3 separate regions of the Homo sapiens genome follow, and regions 1 and 3 are each reported to be linked to region 2. Evidence: microRNA targets listed by miRTarBase, many of them from high-throughput screens and not tested one by one. Region 2 holds a microRNA gene; each other region holds the end of a gene's coding sequence.
Evidence for each region. Region 2 holds the annotated microRNA hsa-miR-7849-3p (GACAAUUGUUGAUCUUGGGCCU, at 1,955-1,976, shown strand). A microRNA usually pairs through its seed, bases 2 to 8, with sites in the 3' UTR of a target mRNA and lowers its output. Matches are read on the target gene's strand: a 7mer-m8 pairs with bases 2 to 8, a 7mer-A1 pairs with bases 2 to 7 and ends in A, and an 8mer does both.

Region 1: miRTarBase lists ACSS3 as a target of hsa-miR-7849-3p. Seed matches in the 3' UTR shown: 7mer-A1 at 515-521, 7mer-A1 at 677-683, 7mer-A1 at 1,848-1,854 and 7mer-A1 at 3,159-3,165.
Region 3: miRTarBase lists DIPK1C as a target of hsa-miR-7849-3p. Seed matches in the 3' UTR shown: 8mer at 2,404-2,411.

Annotation. Positions count from the first base shown.
Region 1 is chr12:81,254,525-81,257,878 of GRCh38, forward strand. It overlaps ACSS3 (acyl-CoA synthetase short chain family member 3), which reads left to right. Exons shown (of 16, transcript NM_024560.4): 16 at 333-3,354. The coding sequence ends at 398. Among named protein-coding and RNA genes, the nearest start is that of PPFIA2-AS1, 23 kb to the right of the region's middle.
Region 2 is chr4:146,406,692-146,409,691 of GRCh38, forward strand. It overlaps MIR7849 (microRNA 7849), which reads left to right and starts at 1,892; the gene lies at 1,892-1,997. The region is part of intron 5 of SLC10A7 (solute carrier family 10 member 7); the gene reads right to left.
Region 3 is chr18:74,433,906-74,437,259 of GRCh38, reverse strand. DIPK1C (divergent protein kinase domain 1C) reads left to right here. Exons shown (of 4, transcript NM_001044369.3): 4 at 541-2,485. The coding sequence ends at 759. Among named protein-coding and RNA genes, the nearest start is that of DIPK1C, 22 kb to the left of the region's middle.

The DNA.
Region 1 (3,354 bases), not on the chromosome of region 2:
AATGCAACAGTAAGGAGTAGTTATGTGAACAAGTGACAAAAAAGAAACATTCTTTCTACAGAAATATATAGAAGACTCTTAAGAGGAACTCCAACTCTAGAGAAAATACCATCTAGGTCCAATAGTTTTGCTAACTGAACTGTTTATTTTTTTACTCTGGAAAGCTACAGATGAGTATTAATATATTAGGTTCAAAGTTCCCTATTTTTAAACTTTCCATATGAATATTACAAGACAATGGGGAAAACAACATTGCATATAATTGTTTAATTATAGAAAGAGTAGAAGAAATTCAAGGAAGAGTATTCACCTGACCCTAATTTTTTTTCCAGATAACTTCTACAATTGAAGACCCCAGCATTTTTGGCCACGTAGAAGAAATGCTGAAGCAAGCATAATGAGTTTGTCTTATTCCTATTTTGAGTTGATTTAATTTCTTAATTGAAATTAAATTATTTGAGTTGTTTCTCAGAAATAAATATTTCAGTAGAAATTACTTGCAAAATGAAATGTGAATTGTAAAACTTGGCCTAAACAAATCTAATGAAAACATGTGAAAGACCTGTGCCTTTTTTTTGGTTTGACCCTGTTAGCATTGTTATTAGTTATCTATAACATGGCTTATTGAATGTCATCTACTGCTTTAGGAAAAACGTATCTAGTGTATTATTTTTAAAATTGTACCTCCCAAGAAGAACACTTTAATTGAAAGCAACACTAATATAGAGCCACTTCCTGAAACCAAGAATCTGTAGTTTTGATCCAAAATCTAAAACTTAAAGTCAGAAAATAATTAAAATTTTTCTTGTAGAAATTTTAGATATTTTCTAGTATTCTTTAGATGCTCACATTGTTTTAAATAAAATAGATGAAATGGGAAGTTTAGGTAATCATCTAGACAGATGAAATTATTATCTAGGTAGGAGGGCTTTTCTATACATTTTCTGAGGGAAAGCAGAACACCGGGGTTATAGCTATACCTTCAGGTCTTTTGTTACTTAGGCAAGGAAAACCACATGTCTGACCTGGTTCAGCATGTAATCCGAGCACTTTGGGAGGCTGAGGCAGGCGGATCACTTGAGGTCAGCAGTTTGAGACGAGCCTGGCCAACATGGTGAAACCCTGTAGCTACTGAAAATACAAAAATAAGCCAGGCGTGGTGGCGGGAGGCTGAGGCAAGGAGAATCACTTGAATACAAGAGGCAGAGGTTGCAGTGAGCCAAGTTCCCCCACTGTACTCCAGCCTGGGTGACAGAGTAAGACTCCATCTCAAAACAACAAAAACAACAAAAAAACCACATGCCTGGCGGAGAACAAAGAGATCATTTAGTCCAATCTCTTCATGGAGATGAGGGCTCCTGGGAGCCCCTCTTCATGTCTCAGGTTCTTAGTTGACTATGTTTATCCAAATGATTCCAGATTCCTGTGGAAACAAGGAATCGATGTACAAATGGGGTAGGGTGGCAAGGAAAACTCTTAAGAGAGAAACATCAAGGTTTTCACATTAGGTTAAAGACAAGAAGGTTTCTAGGCAGGTAGTGTAATGTCTAGGTGATTTTGAAGTGAACTTAAGCCACTAGGTTTGAGGGACAAAGGACAGTAGAAAATGGTGAAGACTGCAGATCACCTGCTATACCTCAAGGAGCAGCGGACCCAGCAGAATATGGCCCAAAAAGGAGGCAGGTCTCCTGTTGCAAGAGCCTCTGTTTTTTTAAAGAGAAAACAAAGAATCCTGGTTTTTATGTGAAATCTCTAATTTTAAAATAATAACTCATTAAAAATATTGTAATGTCCAAAAGTATCTTTCCATTTAACTTCTAAAAATCTCTTAAATGTTTTTTTTAAATAATTGTAAAGTGAGTTTTTGTTAAGCTTATAGGAATGGGCCAGTTAACTAAGGTAGACAGATGTAGGAAATTAAATATTTGATTTACTTAGGGATCTATATGACATCAGTTATCAAAGAATACATTTTAACCCAAAAGTATACCATGCTCATTGTATCTTTGATCGTTCTTCAAGTATTTCTCAATCTTTTAATCTATCAGGAACATTACTATCAAGAGCAGATTGTTGTAACATAATACTCAGGATACATGAAATGTATGTGAGAGATAAATAGATAATAGAAAGTTTATTGTTATAAAAATGACCTACAACTTATATAAAAAAATTCTGAAAATGTTGACTTTTTTTGGACTGAAGACTGCAAAATAAATGGCTTCTCAAAGTAAATTCCTATTTACTTAAATTGCCTTCTTGATTGTTACACCTGGAAAAATATATTCATCTACTTTTTCCTTTTAATTATGTTAGTAGACTGAATTAAACCAGCTACATAGACACTCTCTCATTTGAAGCTGTTGGGATCCTTGAGTTGCCTCTTTCATTGGTACGTTTTATCCATTGTCACAACTGTGGTCTTCATTAATAACTCATTTTAATGTCTTAGGAGTAGAATGTGTTTCCTTATTTTTTTTCAAATAAGAGTCAGTTAATTTGAAATGGCAAATTATTTACCTGAATGTGTATCATTGTTCATTTGCAAGGTTTAAGCTCAGGCAGATCCAATAATTAGGTAAAGGTTGCATCTTTGGTCCTCTTGCACATTTTTTCTGGTAATCAAATCTGAAGCGACATCTCAGCAAGCAGACTTGGGTTATTTTCCACTAGGATGGGAATGGAAAACAGTGCTGGAGACTGGGGAAGTGGCTATTTCCTGTGTCTCACTGGGGAATTGCAAGATCAAAGAATGTTGTTACTTTTATGTGATGAAAAAATAGGGCAAGAAAGATATACCTGAATCATCAGACTGCTTAAAATTTGGGAGGAAAAAATTCTATTTTACTACTAACCATAAATCACTTTTGCTAGATAGTACTTTAAAGATTCTGAATTAAATGTATCTTTAAAAACAACAATATAATATTACTAAAAAATGCAGACATACTTAAACTTGCTAGAATAAATTCTGTGAGGTCTTCGTTTGGTATTTTCATAGGATTTCTTACTGTTAAGTTATTGGAAAATGAAAATATAAAGTGCTTTCAGAAGTTATAGTATTTTCCAATTCATTGAATTACTTTGCTTGTGAAAATATATTAAACATATTTAAATGAGACCTATCCTACATTTAAAAACCAGTTTTGTTTATATAAAATTGTATTTGAAAGGTCCTGAACATTAAAAATGTGAAAATTTATAATGTTGATGATCAAAAGTAACGTGTTGAGACTCTGAGCTTAATCCATTAAATGGATTTTAGAATCTAGTAGAAGTTATCTTTCTTATAAATTAAAACATATTTTATGCTTCTTTTTTGAGGGAAATACCTGGATCTTTTGCATCACTATA
Region 2 (3,000 bases):
ATTGTGCGTGGCCAGGCGCAGTGGCTCACTTCTGTGATCCCAGCACTTTAGGAGGCAGAGGCGGGAGGATCACCTAAGGTCAGGAGTTTGAGACCGGGCTGGCCAACATGGTGAAACCCCATCTCTACTAAAAATACAAAAATTAGCTGGGCGTGGTGGTGGGTGCCTGTAATCCCAGCTACTTGGGAGGCTGAGGCAGGAGAATCACTTGAATCAGGGAGGTGGAGGTTGCAGTGAGCTGAGATCACACCACTGCACTCCAGCCTGGGCAACAGAGTGAGACTACATCTGAAAAAACAAAACAAACAACAACAACAACAAAAAAGTGTTTACTGTGTGATTCTGGTCTCTCATATATAAACCTGACTTATTTTAGTGATGGGATCTTTCCTACCCCTCACTTTATCTTTTCAGAGTCCCAGGATATCTCATTGTACATAGAAGTCAAGCTATGGCAAGTGAGGCTGAAAGTATACCTGAGAAAAGTCAACTTTCCAACTCTAATCCTCTTTCACAATATTTAAGCAGTTTTATTGAGGTATAATTGATATACAAATAACTGCATATATTTAATGTGTACAATTTTATGAGTTTGAACATTGAAAACACCCATGATACCATCACCACAATCAAGTTAACGGACACATGCAATATTTCTCAGTGTTTCCTTGTATCCCATTGTTGCTCTTTGTAATAAGAACATGTAACATGAGATCTACGCTCTTTACAAATTCTGAAGTACACAATACTGTATTATCAAGCATAGGCATTATGTTGTACAAAAGATTTCTAGAACTTTAGCAGATAATTAAAACTTTATATACACTGAACAACCATTTCCCCCACATTCCAGAAGTTTCATTATTAAAGGGGGAAAAGGTGACTTCTGAGAGTAACAAATACGTATTTATTCAAATCCAGATACAGCATATTCTAAAATTGAAGATAATCTTTAAACAAACAGCTACTGTGCCAGACTATTAACTGCCTACTTTATAGCCATTCCCACCCTCTTATATGTTAACAGAACCCTGTTTTCTTTGGGACAACAATATGCCCAATCTAGGATATGACTCACTGTTAGTCTAGTTAGTCTAAACCAGTCACATTTCCAAGTAATATGTGCCTCAAATACATGACAGATAGCCGAGATATTGATTCCCCTTAACTCTCAGGGCAGAAGGACTGGGCCTAGATTAGCAGAAGCATTCTGTTCACCCTCAGGATGTACAACAAATGTTATCATTTCCTACACGTGCCATAAAGGGAAAAACGTCAGTCAGGAAGCACGTTTCTAAGCCAAATTCTGTTCCCTTGGATAGATACTCAATTTCTCTCCTCTCCTTACAGCTAGCAGTAATCCAGTTCTGGCCAATGCAACATTAGGGAAAGTCAGCTGAGAGCCTCCTGGAAATGCTTGTTCTAACATATAAAAGGACAGAAATAACAGGATAGCATATCAGCGGTGCCTTTTCCCTTTCTTCCTACCTCGAACAAAAATACAATGCCTAAAACCTCAACAGCCATCTCACTACCATGAAGTAACAAAGCATGAGGATAAAAGACCAACAGCTAGCCAGGCACGGTGGCTCACAGCTATGATCTTAGCATTTTGGGAGGATGAGGCAGGCAGATTGCCTGAGCTCAGGAGTTTGAGACCACCCTGGGGGCAACATGGTGAAACTCTGTCTCTACTAAAATACAAAAAATTAGCTGGGCGTGGTGGTGCACACCTATAGTCCCGGCTACTTGGGAGGGTGAGACACAAGAACTGCTTGAACCCTGGAGTGACAGAGCAAGACTGTGTCTCAAAAAACAAAACAAAACAAAACAAAACAAAAAAAATACCAACAGCTAAGAATAATGGAGCAGAGAGATGGAAAGAGCTTGAGACTTTATATTGTTGAACATCAGACTCAAGGCCAACAACTGACTACTTCGAAAATGGGAAGTAGACAATTGTTGATCTTGGGCCTGATGTTCAACAATATAAAGTTGACTGGTGGACACTAATGGAGGGAATATTTTAAGTCAATTTTTTTTCTCTGAAGCATCCTTTAATTCTCAGCTTTGTAGGAATATCAACCCTCTTGTTCTCAGATTATCTAATGCTTTATTATCTATTAATATCTATACCACTTTAAGCCTTAGTGGGGTGACATCAGCTTTAATGTTAATCATTTCTATTGCATTCTTCATGGCTCAGAATTTCAGCCTCCTAGAAATTTCAACATATTATGGCAGTACTGGTTGTTAATCCAGCAGCTAAGTGGAAATTCCAAGAGGCATAGTAAATTCACACATTCAAGGGTTATAGTTATTAAAAAACAAAAACTCTGAACCGAAAATGGGGGAACAAATATATTTCAGATATTCTGAAAGGTAATTTAACTTTGTTTGCAATATATAGGAAACATAGAAGGAGAAATTTTTTAATGGGTATGTATAGGCAAAGGCTTGGGAATACTTAGGTACTCTCAAGCTATCTATAAACATAGAAGTCAAAAACATCAACCAGTGTTTCTCAGTAAATAAAAAGCACACTCCAAAAAAAATGCAACTTTGGAAATCTCTTCTAAAAAGTAAGTGCAATAACACTTTTGCTTCCAAATAGAAAAAAAATGCTATTGAATATGGCACATCAAAAAAAAAAAAAGCCACACTGTCAAACTCAAAAAAGTACATATTGTATGATTCAATGTATAGGGTGTTCTGGAAAAGGCAAAACTAAAGGGATAAAAAAACAGATCAGTGGTTGCCAAGGGCTGGGAGGGAGGGGGATAGAGGCATTGCCTACAAAAGGGCACAGGGAAACTTTGGGGGTGATGGAATGTTCTACATCTTGATTATAGTGGTCATTATATATTAAACAATTATCAAAACTTACAGAACTGTATACTAAAAAAGGATGAATTTTACTCTATGTAAATTATACCTTAATTTTAAAATCGGGGAATAGCACATCTGTGAACTGATAAGAACCAAGAGTTATTTTATGCT
Region 3 (3,354 bases), not on the chromosome of region 2:
AGTGCTATACAGGCAGCCATACAAGTTCACACACTTCTCCCTCACGCACCATTTGGCCCTCTGGACAGCCCGGTCAGATGGTCATTGTTGTCACTAGGACCAGCTTGTGGATAAGAAACCTCATCTCCAGGTGGTAACAGCAAAGCCGGCCTCCCTCAGGCCTGCAAAGGACCAACTCCTTCTGCAGCAGTGACTGTCTGTGACTTCTGCTTCCCTTCCTCCCTAGAAATGTGTCCAGTCCTTTTACAGTGTCACCCAGAACTTTGTCCATCTGCTAGGGGGCTGGAAAGGGAAGTTTCTGCCTCACACAGATGTTGGCTTCTCCTCTCGGAGGCGTCTTTTGTTCATGGTGCTGAAGGGTTTAAGGGGCAGAAGTGAAGGCATGTTTCCAAATCGGATGGTCTCTGGAGTGTGCTCCCTGAAGGACGGGGGTGGGGGTGGGAGAGAAGCTGAAATCTGTTTCAGAACCAATCCTGGGCTTGGGAAGCTTTTAGGAGGATTTGCTGCCCTAAATTAACTGTCCACCCTTCTTTCCCTCAGGTCATCTGTGACAAAATATTTCGCCATTGGTTTTCCGCGCCTCTCAAGAGCTCTGCGGTCTCTTTCCAGCTTCAGCTGCAGTTACAGGAGGCGGTGCAGGAATGTGCAGACCCTGGGGTCCCCAGTGGGAACACCCGGAGAGCAGCCTCCAGCGTGTTCTGGAAGCTTCGCCAACTCCTCCAAGCCACACTGAGGGAGCTGCAGGAGGCAGAGAAGTAGCCACTCTCTGGCCTTAAACATGCTCACACAGGAAAAGTGACCTTGGCTGGATTTCTTCTGCCATTGTTTTAAAGATGAGCCATTTCCCCTGTGCTCTCTGGGGTGCCGTTCTGGTCTCCACATTGTGGAGTGGCAAGTGCTGCTGCCAGAGACAGTGCTCCCTCGCTCTCGTCCCACCCTGGCCTCTGACCTGTCGCCTTGTGTAAAATGAGATGAGGGAGGAGGTACAGACCTCCCTTCAGGAGGGCTCTCGGTCAGAAGACACCAACCTGTGTGCACTTATTCTCTGCAGAGAGCACTTGTACCTGGTTATCCCAGCACGAGTTCCAGCTGTTCTTTCCTGTAAATCGTTACCACGTTAAAAAGTGTGCGTGTGTGCATACAAATGATGTGTATGCCTGTGTCTGGGTGCAAATGAGCATGTGAGCATGTGTGAGTGTGCCCATGAGTGTCTGCATGTGTGTGAGTGTGCACAGGTGAGTGTGCACAGGTGAGTGTGGTGTGCTCATGAGGAGTATGAGTATGCCTGAGTGTGAATATGTATGAGTGTGAATGAGTGTGTGCACATGAGTGCACGGGTGTCAGCATGTGTATATAAGTGTGGGCATGTGTATGTGATTGTGTGAGTGTGGGCAGGTGAGTGTGTTGGGGATGTGGGTTAGGGTGGGGAGTGGTGCTTTCTCTAGTGTGTCCTCCGGAACATCTTGCCTACCTAGCAAAGAAGTGTGACCATTCTTTCGGAATTAAATACAATAAAAAGAAAATAAGCTGCATCTTTAGGGAAGGGAATTTGCATTGGAGAGCGTGTGTAACGGCAGCTTATAGTATTTTTCATTTTGTGGAATCCACCAAGGTTATGGATGGGTTTTAGGGCGCCTCGTATTGCAATACACCTTCCCCTGGGCAGGGACTTGTAGGTTGGCTTGATGCAGCATTGTCTTCACCTTCAGAGAAAATTTAAAGTAGAGCAAATGCTGAGGTCTGCATTGACTCCAGGCAGGACCAGAGACCAGCACCTTTCTTTTGATGGATTGAAGACCAAGTGATAGGCATCAAATCCTATGGTGGCATGATACGCTCATCAGTGGTGATCCCAAGGAGGCTTTTCCAGCAAAATACAGGCAGGGGGACAGGCCAGGTGAAGCCAGTGAGCTTTCACTTAAAGGGACCTGGTTTCTACCCATAACTGTGACCCACGAGTGCTCAACAAACCAACGGGTCACCCCTTTTCAGAAATCCCATGAAAAGGGAAATCGAGAAAGATGAGAGAATCAGGAAGTCATGTTGGCAGTTTACACATTAAAGAAGACAAATTAATCGGACGTTGTGAAAGTCACAAACTGACACATTCCAAATGGTCTCTTATCTTGGCCTGCAGCCCCTTTCTAAACCAGAGAAACGGGAATGCCTTCTTCCAGACTTTGGGGTCACATTTACTGACTCTGCCCTTCAGGGCACGCTGAGAAATGGTGTGTGAGGGACTAGCATGATCAGAGGCCCCCAGCTCTAAATTCTGCCTTCCCCAAAGACCTGTTGGAAGGCCCACTGCCAGCTGTTATTCTTACCCATCACCACTGGGGATCTTCCAAATGACACAGAGTTCCATAGAGGGCCTCCTCATCATGGACATGAAGACTCGCTTTGCAATTGTATTCTAGCAAGAAGGAAAAAACCCATGTCAGTCACCCTGTGGCACGAGCAAATTAAAACCAAAGTTCAACGGCCAGGCCTAGGACTAGTGGATTCCAAAGGAAAGGGCGGGCTTCGGGCTATTGGGTGGAGGCTCCGATTTTCCCCAGAGCTGCGCTGGGTGCAATGCCTTTCTGTGGTGGTCGGGGCATACTTTGGGCCATGCTCACCTTCTAGGCAGGTTCTCTACAAGCAAAAAGGTTTACAGGAAGACGGGTGTGAGATGGAGGGGGGGAAGGAGGGAAGCCACCAGGGCTTTGCCCTCTGTGCCCTTTAAACAGTGGGGTTTCGCTCTGGGAGGTCAGAGTGGGTCTTTTGTGGGTAGACGCTGGGATGCCAGCCATTCATTAGTGGCCTGAGCTCACTGACCAGGCAGCAAAGCCAGCCTGGAAAAGAGAAATAGTTAGTTTTCATTTCAACCAAAATGGAAACAAATTGTTTTTGTTTACGATGGAGACTGTGCAATATATAATTATCCAACACAATTGTGGTTTTATTGCTGAAAGGGAGCTGTTTTATCTCTTCCCTTTATGTTTGGCTACACAGTTACACACACACACACACACACACACACCCTTTTCCATCCCTGCCTGGGAATTCCCATTAGAGCAGTGGCTCTCAAATTGTGGTGAAGCTCAGTTTTGTTTTTAATTTTGAAACCTTGCAAATCAATGCTTTTATATAACATAATAAATTAACACTGTGTATATCAATATTTAGTATTTTGAATATGACAAATCGGTTTTTTTCTGGCTGATCTAATTGAGCAACAACCGCACTCGTAGAGGAAAATGTCTCCCTAAATGATTTCTATGTTTTGTTGTAATAACACATAGTAGACAGAACACTCTCAGAGACATGTTGATGGGATCTGAAAAAGATTATAAAGTAAACTCATCAAGCTCA